Regions from separate parts of the Homo sapiens genome. Here region 1 is linked to region 2. The links come from fine-mapping of genetic effects on plasma protein levels. A gene starts in region 2. The other region holds a variant in brackets. All regions are shown on one strand. Distances are between the middles of the regions. Region 1 overlaps IL16 (interleukin 16). Region 2 holds the start of IL16 (interleukin 16).

Region 1 (9,192 bases), 110 kb before region 2:
TCTTTACCTCCTTTTATGGATGAAGAGCCTCAGGCCCAGAAGGGAAGGGTCACTCAGCACATTACAGGCAGAGCTGGGACTAGAACCTGGCCCACCTGCCTCCCTGTCCAGTACTCCTCTCTCTACAACCCCTTGCTCTGTGGCTTGGAGACCTCCAATTTGAGGAACACCAAAGAATCAGGGATGGTTTTACATGGTAGCCACAGTCATTCATGATTTTCACAGGGAAATCCAAGTGACCCCCATATCAGACTGGTTTGTACTCCAATCCCTGATGAACAAAATATCTATCAACATTTTAAATAAAGGCAGGAGCTGACGTGTCCAGGACTAGGGTAAGGCAAATGAGGCCAAGTGTGCAGTACAAAGTCAGACTCTGTCTTGATTTAAACTTGGATATTTTGTCCAACATGTTTTTTTAAAATTAATTTTAAAAAACACGCTGCATTAAAATAGTATCGATCTGAGTTACTGAGTGTTTTGGCACCCCTTTAAAATTCTGCCCCACAGGCCAGTGCCTCACTGCCCCACTCTAGAGTCCTGGCCCTGCCAACCCGAACCAAGCCCAGGACTTAGGTATTTTTGAAGACCCATCAAAACAGAGGGGGGATTGAGGGGATGTCTGAGCAAAGGAGAAAAAGTAGAAAAAGCAGAATTGAGCCCTAAAAGGACCAGCATGCCTATGAAGAGGACATGGAGTTGTGGGAAACAACATAGCCCAGAAAGTGCCCAGAAGCCTTTTGGGGGCCTGGCCACATGCCCACAACTGGAGAGCACGCAAAGAACCAGACACACCCCACACCTTTGAAAATCCTGTTAATGGTGAGAGGCTTGTCTCCGTGTAGGGAGCCCTTCCCTCCTTCCAGGCTGAAGCCCAGCCCTGCCGACATCTTCTCCAGTGTCACCGTGCAGACTGTGGCCTCTGCTGCTGAGAAAAACACAAGGTCTCTGTTAGGGATCCTCTCCTCTCCCAGGCCACAGATGCCCTGGGCTTCAAGTGAGCCCGGGGTGATACAGCCCCCGTGTTTGCACACAGGCACATGTAAACACGTCTCAGGCAGTGTACTAGGCAGCCACACATTCTTGGGGTCACAAATTACTGAGTAGCCCCATCAGGTCTGGCCCCAAATGGCCAAAGAGGATGTGGCCCATGTGGCTTCCACTGAGTTGGGAGAACTTACTAGATTCTACAGAAACATCACTGGCTGCAGAGGCTGAGGCTGCAGAGTCAGTGGAGGAGTTGAGGTCGGGCATGGCCTCTGGAGTCAGCTTCCTTGTGACAATCACAGCTTGCCTGGGCTCTCGAGCTTGGCGGAGGATGGCCAAGGCATCATGGTGCGTGGTCCCCTTGAGAGACTTGCCGTTGATGGAAAGAACCTCATTGCCCTTCTGAATAGTCCCTTCCTGGGAGGCCAGCCCATTTGGAAACACTCTGTGAACCTGAGCAAACCAAAGGAAGTCAGGACCAGAAATCACACAAGTCCAGTCCACATACTTGCTGGAGGAGGATTGAACCGGTTAGTCAATGCTAGAGGATTTTTAGGCCAACAAAGATTAAAGATAATTGTGTCCTAGATTGGAGCTGCTGGCACAGAGGCCAGCATTCCCTCCTTCTCCATCCAGAGCAGAGATCACCAGCAGTAATGACCAGGTAAGCCCTCAGAATCCATCCCAACACAACGTCCTATAGTGTACCACCACGATTCTAGTTGGGATTCCATATAAAATCTTTTGCTTCACCTGCCCTAGGTCAGAAGTCCCCAGAGTAGTTTTCTCAAGGCACTGATTCTATGGCATATTAACGGGTATTGTGTAAGAAAAAGGCTTTTCCTATTATTTTTTAAAAAATAGAGACAGGGTCTCCCAGTGTTGCCCAGGATGGTCTCAAACTCCTGGGCTCAAGCAATCCTCTCACCTTGGCCCCGCACAGTGTTGGAATTACAGGTATGAGCCACCACACCCGGCCAAGAAAAATTTTTTAAAATCAAAGAAACTTGAGGAATACTGGGTGAAACAAAAGCTCTGACATTGTCTACTTTTAAAAAGCAAAAGGCATTAGAGGGTCTACAATGCAAATTTGCATGGCAGCAGATTTCTAAGCAAAAGGCATTTAGAGGGTCTACAATGCAAATCTGCATGGCAGATTTCTAAGTATTGGCAGGGTATTATGGGGATTCCCAAAGTGTTTCAACAAAGAATTCTTTTCTCATAGAGAAATTCTCGGTCTCATTTGGCAGAATGCATTTTGAGAAACACTCTCCTAGGCAGTCTAGACATTTTTATAGCTCCTCCCCTAGAAATTCTGACTCTTTACCTCCAGTCACCTCTTGGTCCCCTTTCTGCAAGATATGTGGGATAAACAAACACACAAAAATATCTCATGTCTCTGCCTCAGCCTCTTTAATGAGGTCCATTATAATTAAGAGGACTGAGTGATAGCATGCATGGAAACCACTAAAATGTGGTACCTGTAGTTTTGCTTTTATGATAGGAGCAAAGCTCTTTGCTTCTCTAAATTGTTTTGGTGTTAGAAAAATTCTGTTACATGGTTAGAATCCCCAGGCTGTAACATCCAAGCATGAAGCAGAACCTCTCCTCTGAGCCTCAGGTTCCTCAATGCTAGAGGATTTTTAGGCCAACGAAGATTAAAGTTAATTAAAGGAGGAACCTCAGGTTCCTCCTCTATAAAAGAAGCATAAATGCCACCAATTTATCAATCCAAAGTGTGGGTAGGATGAATTTAGACAACAGGTCAGTGAGTGCTCAGCATGGCCGTGGATGGTGCTCTACGTTAGTTCCCTTTTAATCATCTGGAAAGGAAGAGAAATGCTCAAACACAGAAGGAGAAAGAAGCTTTTGTGCATGTGCTCAGCCAACATGTGCGCCTTCCTCCTAGTTTCCTGTTGTCTGCAGTGTCTCAAGGGTGACTGGCCAGATGACGTGGACAGAAGTTGCTACTCATGGACAGAGAAAAATACCCAAAGTGCCATTCCCACAGGCAAGCTCTCTTTCCTCCTCTTCAAGTAGAAAGTAAACTACACGGTCAGGAATCTTTTTGTAATACTCAGCTGCACTCAGTGAGAGAAATAGAGACTTACAGGTTTTAAGTGTTTTTTATGTGATAGAAAACTTATCAGGAAATCAAGGAAGTCACCACTGACATGATTGACTCTGAAGTGACACGCAGGAACATGCCAGATTGCCACTGCAAGGGGGTGTGGTATGTTGAATGCTGGCTGATGCTGTGAACTGGAGGATTTGTTTTCAGTTGGGCATGGAAATTCAAATGAGCCCAGCACAGCCTACACAAAGGATACCCTGAGACAACACAGCCCTGGGATGACAGCAATGCACTCGGCTTTAGAGAGCGAGCAGCCGCAGCATGGCTCCACAAAACTGGCAGAACCAGAAACCATCTGGGTCAGGTACAGGTGACCTGAAGGCAGCAGCCAATGCTGATCAGATTGGATGAGCCAGAATAGTGGGACCCACAGGAAAAGATGCCCATGGCCAGGCCTGCTACCCTCTCCACGCAGCCCCAGGCTCTGGGATGTGCTGAGTGGACAGGACCTGCCCAGTGGCCTAGTGTCATGCATTCTTCATTTCCCCAGCACAGGGCCCCTTCCTGGCAAGTGTGTCCCCCTCCCCCAGAACCATTGCCTCTGGCTGTGACATGCCCCTTCACTTGGCCACTCACCGTAATCACCTTGTTTTCTAGATCTGCTCCTCCTGCCAAGCTGAACCCAAGACCAGCACCTTCCTCCTTGTGTAAGATGGTGACATGGATGCCGTCTAATTGCTGCAGAGGAAATACATACATTCAAAAACATTTTACTGCAAGAGGATGAACAATTTAACATCGGACTGACATCAGACTGATTTGTTATCTCAAACCCCAGCTTGGCCAGCCTCCAAGTTACATCACCTCCTCAAACCTCAGTTTCCTCATCTGTAAAGAATGGACCTTCAGGAGTCATGGGAAGCTTAGAAGAAAAAAAAAATGTATGTAAAGCAGCAAGCATAATTATTTTCCTCTCTCATTCACCCTGTCCACAGCCGGGCAGGGGGAGTGCCATGAAGTCAGCCAGAAATCAGCATATTGGACAGTGTGAGATGAAGTCAGGTTGTAGGACTTCAGGTAAAACAAAACAAAAAAAAAAAACAACAAAAAACAAAACAGGGGTCAGTGCTGTTCTGCAGGAATTGGTTGCTCCTTCTTCCCTTCTACTTCTCCATGGGTCACAGCAGCAGCACTAAGGAAGCCCAGCTAACATCCTGCCCCAATGCACAGTGTGCAAGTGTGACACACACACACACACACACACACACA[C/T]ATTACTACGGTACTTCCTAGCCTAGACGGGGACTCCCATGGAGCCAGGACACAGTCAGAGACTCCTATTCCAGTCTAGAGCAGGGGTCTCAAACTCAGATGCCTATAGGAGTCAGGCAGGTCCCTAAAATGAGCCAAATGGGCAGATGTGTGATAGGAACTGCAGAGCGCCAACGAGTACATCTGCTCAAAGGGTCAGCTCTACGTAGGCATACAGAACTAGCGCTACCAGATCACTTCCCTAAAGTCCAGGTTTCAATTCAGGTTTTATCATGTATAGAATTCAATATTTTTTTCATCACCATGCAGACCAAATAAAGTACACCTACAGGTTCTTGGGGCACCTGTTTGTACCTTGGCACTAAGGAGTAAACTTATGTCAAAGAATTCACTTGCTCAGCGTCACTAGAGCACCTGACTTGCAGCTGTCCCTATGATCCTAAGACTTGGAGCCCCTAAGACCCAAAGGCATGGAAGGATGAATGTACCTCACTGCACCCTCACCTCCAAGCCCCAACACTAGCCCAACTCTCTCAACTTTTACCCAAGTATCAGGTTACTTGCCTTGTAGAAGGCTCTTCTCATGTTAGAAAGCAAATACTCTCCCCAGAGCAGCTCAGGCAGGATGGCTCTTTGTGTTTTACACGCTCTGCCTCTGTTATTTCATTTGCACTGAGTAAGATCCTGGGGGATGATGGTCCCAGGTGACAAGTGAAAGCCACAGCGAAAGAATCTCAGCACAGCAGCACCTTGGGCTCATCAGACTCACCTACACTCTTGATGTGGAAATTGCAGCTATGAGGCCTCCTTGTATGGAAAACGAGAACCTCCTTATCCTCTCATCCTAGCCTGGATCATTCTAGTGCCAAAAGCCTACGGAGGCCTGGGGCAGCACCTAGAGGGTGCAGGACCCATGAGCCTGAGCTCATTTGACTGCTGGCCCCAGCTCAGCCTGGCCACTTCCTCCCCACACCCCTTTGGGTCATGCTCAGAAAACATATGGGAAGTGAGACTTTCAGAATGACTTGACTGAAGCGTGGGGGACTTGTGAGCCCTGGGATCAGCCACCTCTCCATGCACAGTGGAAATAATGAAAGCTCCAGGTGAGAGCTCTTGTAACCCACATTGTTTACAATGGACAGCATCCCACAACAGACACATGCCAGGACAGCAGCACATGGAATGTGGAAACAGCACTGAACTTGAACTTGGAGACAGAAAACCCAGGTTCTGTAACCTTGATTGAGCCTTACCTTTCTCATTTATAAAATGACAAAAGAAGATGCAAGAAGTCAATCTACTGAAAGTGGTTCACAAGCTAAAAGGCTCTCTTCAAATGGAAGGTCTTACTGTGGTCAAGTGCTACAGTGTCCCACCATCACAGGACGCAACCTGGGTCTGATGTGAGCAGGCTACTCAAGCTACTTCCCCTCTGGCCCAACTAAGGTGGCCACACAGCCATAATAAGCCATTGGTTACTGCAGATGCTTACAAAGGAAACCTACCTTTAATGTTGCTTCATCCAGAACCTTCACCTCCTCGATGAGTTTTTTTAATTCTTCTGAGCTCAGCAGGGAGATAACGGACTGACCAGACTGAAGGGAACTGTGGTCCCCATCATCGTCTTCCTTGGCTTCCGTGAGACCCTCTGTATATTCTCTCAGCTCTGAAAGGCTTTCATAAGGAGAAACAACACACAGTATGAACAACAATATTAAAAAGAGGTAACAGTGATTGTATAATTACTATGTCCCAGGTGTGGTGCCAAGCACTTATGTGCATATTATTTGATGCAACAAATCTATGAGTAGATACTAGCATACCTTCACTCTACAGATATTTCCCAGCAGTGTAAGAATAATAAATAAAACTAATAAATGCAGAGCTACTTTGATCAGAGGGAAGACCAAGCCCCAGCCCTACAGCAGGGACCCTATGGCACGTCTGACATCCTCTTGGTTCTGCATAGAAGGTCTCATCCATCTCCTAATTTCAACTGACAAGGAATCTGAGGGTGAGCATGGAAAGAACCTGCTCATAGTCAGAATCAGTGCCTAAGCTGAGACTAGGACCCAGACATCCTAACTCCCTGACGAGGGAGTTGAACCCACGTGCAGAGTACAAGTGGATTCCATTTGGAGAGTAAGAATTCCTGATGGATAATTTCCTGGCCTCATTCTGGTCTTTCTGAGTAACCGCAGGACATTTCAGATGTGCATCAACCTTCCAAATCTCCACAGGCGTATGTCAGCCCTCATGAGCAATTCACCAGGGAGCCAGTCCCACCTCCTACCTCCCAGCCCTCCTGAAGCCAGATGTTGTGAAAACTCCTCCTTAATGTGAAAGGCAGAGGTGTAATACCTACAGACAGACACACACACACTCAGACATCTGCACACACATGGAAAGAAAGAGGCAGAACAATTCTTTAATCAATATATCTGGGAATTTTTTAAATTATATATAGGATTATTTTTAAAAATAAAGATGAGAAAGAAAAAGATGAGAAAGGTAAAGAGAAACACCGGGTGTAGAAACTCACTTGAGCGAGAACCCTGTGTCCAAGGCAGATGTTTCAGCAGAACCATTTGCAGCTGAGTCTTCGTTGGATGATGATGTTGGAGATGCCCCTTCCTTGGGGATGCAGGGAGTCTGGGCACAGGAGATAGAAGATGGAAGGCACAGCAAGGATTTCATGACAGCCGATGACACTTGGCTGCTGATAGAATAGAGTTTGCTGGTCTTTTCGTCAAGTAGCTTCGTCTCACAGGACTGGGACCTGGTCAGGGGGAAGCTCCGTGCTCGCTGGCTAGGCATCTTGAGCACTGGGCCTTGAGATTCCTCAGCCTGTGTTGACAGCAGCCTTAGGAGCGGGTCCGGGCCAGGGGGGAGAGTTTTCTGATTGGGCTGCCGCCCTGGGGGAGGGGACTCAGACACACCTGGGTCTCTGGCCTCGGAGGCTGCAGGGGACCCCGAGGACAGTACTTGCTCAGGCTGCTGGGGCACAAGAGTGGGTGCAGCCCCTCGCCCCAAGAGTCCAGAAAACCGTCCTTCCTCATGCTTCCCAAGAGGTTTTGCTGCCTCCCCAGAGGAGGGCTGGAGGCTCAGTCTCTGGGCTCCTTTGTCAGGCAGTTGAGAGGAGCCAAAGGTTTCAAAGGAGCTGATTCTCTGCCTGATGGAGGAGGAGGAGGAGGAGGCCCGGATGTGTGATCCTAGGTGCTCCCTGGAAGCAGGTGCTGGCTGGGTGGACAAGGCAGGATCAGGGAGCCCTCTTGGGTCTGAAGCACGATTCCTCAAACCTTTCAAGCTTTGGCGAAACCAGGCTGGCTTGGGAGCCACAGGAGGACCTTTCTTCACAGTGCTGCTGTCTGCTGACTTGTAAACTTTGGGAGTGCCATTGGCGGTGTCCAGCTTTGGTGGGGTCCCATCTGGGTGGCCCTGTGTCCCTTCTTCTTCATTCAGGCTGGCATTGGGCTGTAGAGGCATGTGGCCATGGTTCTCACTCATGATGGGGCTAAATAAGTTTTTGATGCAGTCAGAAATCCTAACCCAAGGGTCTTCGGCTGTGGTATCAAAGCTATAGTCCATCCGAGCCTGCCTCTTAAGCAGTGGGTGTTTTATCGGGGATGTTTGGGTCACTACAGTGCAGAAACAAGGCCAAAGCTGTGCATTACATCATACAGTGACTTTTCTTCCTAAATTCTAGTTTCCAAGCTGAACAGCAAGAAGGATTCAAGAGGAGGAGATTAGCAGAAGTGGGGGACACCCAGGTGGGTGAACTCCAGGTGCTATTACCTGACTGAGCTGCCAACAGGCAGGAGTGAAGGACCAGAAGTAGGAGTTAATCTCACAGTATCCTAGTGTTTTAGGCCTGGAAGGGTGCTCAGAGAATATCTGGGCCGACCTCTGGCATATTACATTTCAAGAAGGGTAAGGGGCCATCTGATGGCAGTGCTCAGGCAAGACCCTGTGTCTCCTGACTCTTGAAGTTCATGTCCTTTCTACTGCACTAAGGAGCCTCCAAGATACCATGTTAAATGTGTAAAAGCCAAAGCAGTTCTCCTGCCGTTTAAACTTTTAAGACAAAGGTCATGAGTTGGCAGCTGTTTGTGCTTTGACCTACCCGTGTCATTAAAAACAAGGTGCCTGTGCACAGCTTCTGATGGGGCCACTTCGGCTTCCCACAGCTCTTCACGCTCCCTCTCACCCAGCCAGCATTTCCCATGTATGTACCTGCCTGGCCCTGAAGCCGTGTGTTTGCTGCTCTGCCTATACACAGGTCATTGATCAGCTTGCTCTCGGCAAAGGAGTGTTTTCCCTCCCTCAAAAGCTGATGAAAAGGTTCCAGGTAGAAAGGAATCTGTGAAGTAGGATTCTCCACCTTGGCTACATACTGGAATCTGGAGGGCCCTGAAAAATACTGACGCCCACCCCTAGGTACTGACTGAAGATACCTGGGATGCAGCCTGGGTGTTGGGAATGTGATGAGCAGGGGATTGCAATGTGCAACCTGCTCTGTGCCAGCCAGGACCTCAGGCATGCCCTGGAGCACATAGGAGTCTTTCTCAGAAGCCAGCATTGAACCAGCATCATATCTGCATGGGTAAGGGAGAGGGTGTCCTGGCTCTCTTTCCCAGGGGCAGAGGGAGGCTGGCCTGTGTGCCTTGGGGGATGCTTGCTACTGGAACGCAACCCAGTTGAAGGAACTCTGATCCCTCCTGTCCCTTGTCTCAATGCCAGGTTTCAAAAGAAGTGAATCATGGAGCATTACACCTTGATGATATCAAAGAGAAATTCTGCACAATCTAAGAGACTGGCCTTGGGCAAGTGAGCCCAGGCCTCCAGCCTGTTTCTGCATTTTT
Region 2 (9,170 bases):
TTACCAGTTGCTCCCACTCAAAGCAAACCTCTCCTCCAGCATCTCCAGATGTGGCAAGAACAGCGCCTCCCTCCTGATGGGCTCCGCCCTTCCACCCAACGTCCTTCACATCCACCTGAGACATCCACTGAGACTTCTCAGTGTTTCTGGCACACACTGAGCAACACTGTCTAGTTTACAAGACTGACATAGATTCGTCCTTATTTCAACAGGAATTCAAAAGAAGAACTTGAAGTAAATTCCTGATTTCAAGCTGCCTTCCTAGTTAACCACAACTCCAAGTTCTTGGAACTATTTGTTTATTTTGCCCCATGCCTATTTTCTCCCCGTGTTTATGAGCATATTGCTATTCACAATGAATTGCTTTTTAATAGCAAAACGTAACCTATATATGAAAATGTATTACCAATTCAAATGCACAATAAAAAATATGTATTTTATATATATATATATATATATATATATATATTTTTTTTTTTTGAGATGGAGTCTCCCTCTGTCACCCAGGCTGGAGTGCAGTGGCATGATCTCGGCTCACTGCAGTCTCCGCCTCCCGGGTTCAAGCAATTCTCCTGCCTCAGCCTCTTGAGTAGCTGGGATTACAGGCATGTGCCTCCACGCCTGGCTAATTTTTGTATTTTTAGTAGAAACAGGGTTTCACCATGTTGGCCAGCCTGGTCAGGAACTCCTGACCTCAAGTGATCCGCCCGCCTCGGCCTCTCAAATTGCTGGGATTACAGGCGTGAGCCACTGTACCTGGCCAGTAGATTTCAATTCAAAGTGTACCTCCCTCCCTCTCACTCCTATACCCCTGGGCCACTGCTGGGAACCAGAAAGGGGGAGGGGTTGACAAAAGGGCAGGTCTCAAGGTCCTGGTCTGCCTCTGCCAAAATAATTCTGCCTTAACTGATTATACATGAGTTTTCATGATAGATTTTAATTCTAAAAAGGTTTCCATGAATACAAACAATTAGAAAATAATAATTCTATAGTCAATTGCATCCAACAGAGATTATTTTTTAACCCTATGGATATATGACCATCTTTGTGTTGAGGAAACTCAAGTATTTATTGAGGCATGCCACAAAGCCAGTGAGAGCATGGATTTTGGAGTCAAGCTGGGTTTGGGTCCTGGGAACGTCTAGCTGAGTGGTCCTGTGCAAGCCTCCTCACCTCTCGGTTTGGGGATATACTCCCTAAGCTCCAGGTTGTTGTAAGGTTTAAATTAAATGAGGTATGTGAATATTTTAGCTTGGTGCCTGGGGCTTGAAGAGTGGCCAGGAAATGGTTGGGGTACTAAGTTTTATTTAAAAGACTCACTGGGGATTGAATAAATGAGCAGTAGAGGCTTCAAGGGTCTGACCCACCTGACGGCTCATGCCCACGTCATATCTGCAGCAGGGGAGGTGCCTTCTACTGTGCTCGTAAATGTTGACCATCACTTAACTTCAGGGTAAAGAAGGAGAACAGAGGAGGAAAAAGGCTGAACGGTCTTCTCCTTCCGGGGGAAACTGGAGAAATAGGAAGGGGAGCCACAGAGACGGCAGCTCCCAGGCTGCTTCCAGGAACCCAGTGGGAGCTTGAACTGGCCTCCTGGGACAAAGGGGTCGTCTTTGTATGGCTCAGCCTGAAGTGGGAGGATTTCACCTGATAAGGGCAGGAGGAGAAGATGCTTCCCTGTATTCCACAGGGAACCTCTATTCTTATGCTGTTACCTCATTCTCCAGCTACAGAAAGCAAACTTGCTATGGACCAAAAAAGAAAAAAACAAACAAACAAAAAACAAAAACAAAAAAACACCAATCCTGGGACCTACCAATGCAGGAATTAGTCACGGGACCCTTATCAAAAAGCAAGCAGAGTGAACACTTTTCCCATGGTCAATCTGCAGAGATGCCCACCCGCTGTGCCCACTTTGGAGAAAAGGAGTCTGGCCAGGCAGCAGAGAAGCCCCCATCAGGTGCCCCGTGGCCTTTCTCTCTCCTGCTGCCTTCCTTTCCTCCACCTCCTTCCACACCCCATTGCCAAGGATGAGACGAGGCTGAAAAGTCAGAAATCTCAGGACCAAATTCTCCCCGTGCTGCAGAGCCAGGTCAAGCGATATCCCTCTGCCCGCTCTGGCCTTCTGAAGCTGCTTCCTCCTGTACCTAACTGTGACATGGTGACACAGAGATTCCTACCAACACAATCCTGGCTTCTGCTCCTGCCCCTGACCCCAGCACCACTTCCAAATATGAAGTTACGTCCTAGCAACCAAGACCCTCCCCATTCAGGTCAGAGAGGCCAGCTTCCTCCCTCCGGTAACGGCCACCTGGACAGAGCAGCTGCCTGACAGACATTCACTCACCTGGTGCCCACCTACCTCCCTATGCACAGTCCCCCGGGGCTGCCATCTCCCTTGCTCCTCTCTCCATCTGCCCAGCAGGGATTGCAGCACCACTTATTCCCGGACAGCCTGTGGCCCAGGCCTGGGTCAGAGCCGGCAAGGATTGAGAAATGGACGCTCAGTTCTCAGACGGAGGCCGGCCTTTGAGTCAGATCCCAGGCTCCGATAGTTGAGATGCCGTGAGTAGGACACAATATTCACCACCTGCTCTGGACAGGTGACTCAGGACAAATGTGTCCCACCTGGCATGGATTTGCTCGAAGACTCCTGATCTGAGCCATCTGACTGCTCCACGTGAAAAGGCTTGATCCAAAAAGGGGGGCTGCCAGTGCTGAGAAGCTCAGCCTCAGAACAAGGTCCACCATCTGCTGGGCTGGCCGGCAACACCCAGGAGGCAAACCCAGTGCAGAGCCACAGAACCACAGTGAGGTTCCTTGGTCCAGCCCAGTTGCCCCTGCCTTCTTTGGACAACACAGAAATGACTAGGAGAGCCGAAAGGTAGCAGACATGACTCGGTGCCTGCAATGTGCCTGGCACGCTGCTAGGAGCTTTCTATAAACCTCATCACATGCTGGAAGCTGTGGCACGTGCCTATAATCCCAGCTACTCAGGAGGCTGAGGCAGAAGGATCACTTGAGCCGGGGGATTCAAGACAAGCCCGGGCAAACCATAGCAAGAACTCCTCTCAAATTATATAAAAATTTAATAAAAAGAGGAAAAAAGTCATCACATACAATCCTGCCATCAATCTGGTAAATATATCACCTGCTTTGCAGACAAAGAAAGCCACTGCACAAACGTTCATTAAACACCTACTACGTGCCGTGGAATTTCCCCAAGGTCACACAGTTAGCAAGTTAGCAAGTCAAAATCCACCTGTCTCCAAAGCCCAGGCTTTTTCCATAGCATTTCATTTCTTGTCTGTGCCACCCTTTCCCAAAAACAACAGACTGGCTCTCAGAAGCTTATGTAACTCAGTGGTCCTCAAGCCAGCTGCATCAGCAGCATCTGCTAGAAATGCAAGTTCTCAGGCCCTGGCCTAGACCTCCTGAAGCAGCACCTCTGGCACTCTGTTTTCACAAAGCCTCCAGGTGATTTTGGTGCGTGCTCAGGTGCGAGAGCCCATGACCTAACGTATACAGAGCATGTTGAAAACTGCAGCATAAAAGAATGGGGCACTTTTGTGTGTGTCCTGTTGGCATTAGTGTCATGAGACCAGAGTGCCTTTCCCCCACGTAGCCCCTTGGAGAATCTAATCATAAGGTGGCATTTAATCCATCTGCCCCGCAAAGAGCATCCCACACATCTCTCCTAAGCTCAGTCTCTGTGAGCCCTGTGTACATGCTAGGCTGAGGTTTTTGTATGGACCTCTCTTCTAAAGAATGGAATGTTTCCCAACGCTCAGCACCAAATGTTTCAGGGCTTCCTGGGGGCTTTAATGAGGGTGTAGGTGCAACCTGTAGGAAGCCCTTGAAATTCCATGCAAGGCTGCAAAGATCTAGCCGCTGCTGCTGGAGAACACAGGCCCACGGTCCCAAGGGAAGCACGGGAGGAGGGAGCACTCTGGGGATAAAGCTGCCTTTGTCAGCAGGCACAGGGGACATTGTAGGGCTGAGTCTGGAGTGAGTCTGGAGTGCAGTGAAGGAATTTCTAAATTGCAGAGAGTGAGCGCCTCTGTCAGTGTCGCCTGCTCAGCTCACACCCACAATCTCTCTCACAATGGCCTGGGTGCGGTGGGGCCAGGACAGACTCAGGCCCCACTTCCATCTTGCTCTGGCAGAGAGGCTGAGGAGCAATTCAGCACCCCAGGGCTATGGGGGCTGGCCTTGCCCTTCTTGGATCCTGAGGCCTGGGAGGGCCCCACAGCCCCCCTCCTCCACTAAGTCTAAGCTCTCTCTTGTCATCGGCACCTGAATCCAGTTCCCGCCTCTCCCTCTATTTTCCGAAGATCTGTTCTTTCTCACTCTCAGAAGGTAAATTTATTCCAAAGTGTAGTTGAGACTTGGCCCTGATTTTTCCTAATACGGGGTGGTTTGTGCTTCAAGGTGGAAATTTTATCACCCCTCTGCCCTTCAGGACATCCTGCAGAAAGAGTCTCCACCCTGCCCAACACTCCATAGTCCAGCTCACTGCAAGCCAGAAGAGACGGGGAGGAAGACGCAGGTGAGAGAGCCCCGCCCTGGTTAGAACTAGGAAGTTCAAGCACCACTTGAAGCTCAACCAAGAGCTTCCTGTGTGATCTTGGTCATTCACAGCCTTAGTTTGCTACGATGAAAATTAGATGAAATTAATTGTCTGCCAGATGAAATTAGAAACTTCTACTGCACAGTGTTACTGAGAGAATGAGGCAATAGAGGAGGAAGCATGCTGCCAACAGCTAACCAAGCAGAAGCCTGCTCACCTTTTTGGCCCTTCCAGCCCACGGAACTGAGAAATCTGTTCAACAAGTGATTCTGATGCTTGCTAAAGTTTCATAATCAATAACCTGTATTTCCTTCTAATTCTCCTATTTTTTAATTACAAAATTTTATTTCCAAAAGTAAATTTTTAATTACAAAAATTTTAATTACAAAATTAAAATTATAAATTTTGAAAAATTAATTTAAAAAATTTTAATTTTAAAAATTCTAATTTAATTTTTAAAAATTAAAATTACAATTACAAATTTAAATTTAATTTAAAAAATTAAAATTACAAAAATTTTTAATTTCAAAATTTTAGTTATAAAAGTAATACATGTTTGTTGTGGCAAGTAAACATATTCAGAAGGCAAAAAGAAAGTGTGTCCTTAAAATGACACAACAGGGTCATCTCCTATTCTGTTCAAACAATGGCAAAATAAAGAGCTTAGGGTCAGAGCAATAAGCCCCAGCTTCTGTACTAAGCGGCTCTGTCAACTGCAAGTCCTTTTACCTTACTGAGTCTCAGTTTCCATGTCCACAAAATGGAAACAATAACCCAATAATCTGACAGGGCTGCTCAGAGGTCTGAGCAAAGAGCTGTCCTGCAATCTATAAAATGCCTTGGGAATTCTTTATGCTGTACACTTTTGGTCATGCGAACTGTATTATCATGAGCAGAATATAATTTAACAATTTTAACTAGTAATGTAACAATTTTAACTAGTAATGTAACATGACGCAGAATATAATTTAACAATTTTAACTAGTAATGTAACAATTTTAACTAGTAATGTAATGTTACTAGTAATGTAACCTGACAGTAATGGACATGATGATAATAAATTCTCTCTGCATTTAGCACTTTCAACTTAGACAGAATGTTGAGGCCAAAACTTGATGATTTTATTGTACGTCCCCACTTACGGATGCAAACACTGAGACTCAGAGAAGTTACATGTCCAAAAAGTGCACGTCCAAGGCTGTGCAGTCAGAAGCCATTGGTCCCTTGATTCCCGCTCCCCGGCTCTCTTCCCCTCTTTCCCTGGCCCACAGCAACATATAGATTCAAACCAAGGGTTTTAACTTCATACGAAAATTCTAGCTGACTTCCATGTAGACCATGCTGCCCTCTCTCTGGCCTTTTTTTCTTTCAAACTGTCCATCAGGCTTGCATCCTTTCAAAGTAATATTCCATCACTAAGATACTTACAATCACGACAAGCAACTGAAGCCAGTCCACAAGCAAATATACCACGCACATGCCAACAACTCCCAAATTCACTTCTCCAGGCCTGGACTTCTCCTTGAATTCTGACTCTTTTTTCCTACCACTTGCTTAACATCTTCAGCTGGGGTTTAACTTAAATTTCAAAAGTAACATTGCCTGGCTGTTATTCAGTGAGGCAAAAAAAAGGAACACTGCCAACAGTACTCTTGATTCCCCCCCTAATAAAATGTTTCTTCCCTAAACTTCCACATTTTGGTAATTGTCACTAGCATCCATCAATTTCCCAAGCCAAAATCCTCAGTATCAAGGTGGGAAGAACATAGCACAGGCTCTGAAGCCAAAATTCCTGGGTTCATCTCGCAGGTCTGTCCCTGCCCAAGTGCATGATCATAGGCAGGCAAAAAGGCACTTCTCTGTGGACTGGTTTTGTCATCTATAGGCTGGCTAGTGCACTAACATCCACCTCACAAGGTTTGTTTGGGCTAAATATGGTAATACTTGTAAGGTTCTTAGAACAGTGCCTGCCAGAATAAGCCCTCTGTGAGTTTTTATTCATCTTGATCCCTCCATCTCTCTAACCTTCCACATCACATCCAATTTATCAGTGATTCTCGTTGGCTCTATCCCCAGAAGCTATCCCACTTTCTTTCCGCTTCTCTCCATCTTCACTGCCGCCACCCTCCTCTTACCAGTGCCTCTTGTCTGATTATAGCTTTCACCTTCTAACTGGGATTCTGGTTCCTATGCAGACCTTCATAATCCATTTTTCACATAATAGCAGGTAGGCTTTTTGAAAATATAAATTGGATCAGCATAAAATTTGCAAGGGCTTTGAATTACTTTTAAAAACTGTTTTTTGTTTGTTTGTTTGTTTTTGAGACAGCATCTTGCTCTGTGGCCCAGGCTGCAGGGTAGTGGTATGATCATAGCTAACTGCAGCCTTAAACTCCTGGCTCAAGCAATCCTCCAGCCTCAGCCTCCCGAGTAGCTAGGACAACAAGCACATGCCACCACATTTGGCTATTTTTTCTTTTTTCTTTTTTTTTGTAGAGACACGGTCTCTCTGTGTTGCCCAGGCTGGTCTTGAACTCCTGGCCTCAAGCAGTCCTCCTTCCTTGGCCTCCCAAAGTGCTGGGATTATAGGCATGAGCCACTGCACCCAACCACTTTTTTAAAAATTTAATAAACTTTATTGTTCTGAGCAGTTTTAGCTTTACAGAAATATTGCATAGAAAGTACAGAACTCCCGAATACTGATCTCCCTCTCCACACACACAATTTCCCATACTATTAACATCTTGCATTGGCGTGGTACCTTTTTACAATTGATAAATCAATACTGATACATGATTATTAGCTAAAGTTCATGGCTTACGTGATGGTTCACCCATTGTGTTGTGCAGTTCTATGGGTTCTGACAAGTGCATAGCGTTATGGATCTACCACTGTAGTATCAGACAGAGAGATATATTTACTGCCCCAAAAATGCCCTGTGCTCCACCCCTTCCAAAGGCTTTGCGTTGTTTTCCAAAATAATACCCAAATTCCTTACAGTGTCCCAAAGGAGCTAAATGATCTCACCCTTGTTTATCTCCCAAACTCCAGCTTCCACCTCTGCCTCTCCTGCTCGCTGCATCCCACAGCCACCCTGGCCTTCTGGCTCTTTCTTGAATAAGCCATGCCCTTGTCACCCTAAGACTTCTGCCCTAGCTGTTTTCTCTTACAGGAAAGTTCCACTTCCAGATCTTCATATGGCTGGCTCTTCCCTGACTCCATCTCCTAAGTGGGATCTTTCTTGACCACTCAACCTAAACCAGGCACTCACCGTTACCTCTCCTTATTTTATTTTCTTCATAGAACTTGCCAGCATTTGAAGCTGTCTTGTTAGTCTGCTTGGGTACTTACATACCACCCATCCGCCCCATCTAGGTCCCACACAGGGACCTCATCAGCCTGTTCACTGTGGGGTCCCCAGCACTAGAGCATGCCTGGCCCATAAAGGGTTGATAAACATTTACTGAGTGAATCAATGCATAAATGAATGAATAAATGACTAATGCCATGTAATGAGTTTCTACATTTGTTTGTAGTTTTCAGTTTACAAAGAGCTCTTCCAGACATTTCCTTAGCGTAATTTATGTGATTAGGCCCAGGTTTAAATGGAACTTAAAAAACATATTCACAGTATCTCTCTTAGCTCCTAGAAGCCACAGATTAGGAAACAGAATGTTCTCTCCAAGGGAAGAGAGTTTAGTTCCAAGAGCATTCATGACCCTCCGGTTATGACAAGAAGAATCACTTGGTTTAATTCATGGCTCTAAAACAAATAAAAAGTACTCAGAGATATAGAACCTTGGCTGATTAATAACAGCAACAACAAGCATTTGTGCAGCACTTGCTGTGGGCCAGTGTGGAGGCTGAGGCAACTCCATCTTGGGTGCTAATCCCCCATGTTGGATTCTGATTAACTCCAGTTCCAGGAAAGTCTCGTAAGGTTTCTAGTCTATCTACTGTTCCTTGTATAAGAGCATGTACTTATCCTACCCTTAGGTCAAAACAATCTTGATGTTATTGTACTTACCATAAATCCTGACCTTGAGCAATCACCCTACCCATTCCTTCTGAAGCACTGTACCCTTCTCCTATGATATATAAACCCTGGGTCTGGGGTGTAATTGTGGGGATTCACCATCTTGTCTCGCCGTCCTAGACACAGACATGGCTTCTGGACATAAGTCCCTATTCAACATTTCTTTCTAAGAAACTGGATTTTTCAGCTTCTTTCTTTGGCCCCTCAACTTCCTCAGCCTTTGGGGGTAGGTTTGCATAGGCCTGCTCACCATGGAACAGCTAGACACAAGGCTAAGTACCATCCACACAGTATCCAGCTCCACAATTCACTTGGAGGGTTGGTACCATAATGATTTCCCCTTTTTCTTATAAGAAAGGGAGGAAGAGACATCACAGGGAGTAAAACAACTCAAAGCCCAAAGTACAGAGCCAGGATGTTAACCCAGGATTATCTGACAACAAAATCCAGTCAGTTCTTGTCCTTGTAACAAAAGCTGAGTAAGTAAACATTGCCGTGCTGAGCATCTGTAGATTCCTACCCATCCCCTTCAGCCCTATCACATGGGTGGGCTTAGAAAGGGTT

What was found. PIP is the posterior inclusion probability: the model's chance that the variant is causal. The UK Biobank Pharma Proteomics Project read protein levels with antibody pairs (Olink). The fine-mapping took linkage between variants from a reference panel, not from the people measured, so its PIPs are less certain.
Region 1: its variant is fine-mapped to the plasma level of the IL16 protein (UK Biobank, PIP above 0.99).

Annotation. Positions count from the first base shown.
Region 1 is chr15:81,298,156-81,307,347 of GRCh38, reverse strand. It overlaps IL16 (interleukin 16), which reads right to left. Exons shown (of 19, transcript NM_172217.5): 14 at 6,873-7,968; 15 at 5,836-6,004; 16 at 3,698-3,799; 17 at 1,182-1,440; 18 at 803-928. Among named protein-coding and RNA genes, the nearest start is that of STARD5, 21 kb to the left of the region's middle. RefSeq lists enhancers at 2,997-3,527, 2,912-4,111, 5,453-5,542, 8,608-8,657, 8,831-8,880. The variant C/T (reference allele first, on the strand shown) is at 4,331.
Region 2 is chr15:81,190,330-81,199,499 of GRCh38, reverse strand. IL16 (interleukin 16) reads right to left here and starts at 2,621. Exons shown (of 19, transcript NM_172217.5): 1 at 2,348-2,621. RefSeq lists an enhancer at 8,768-9,170.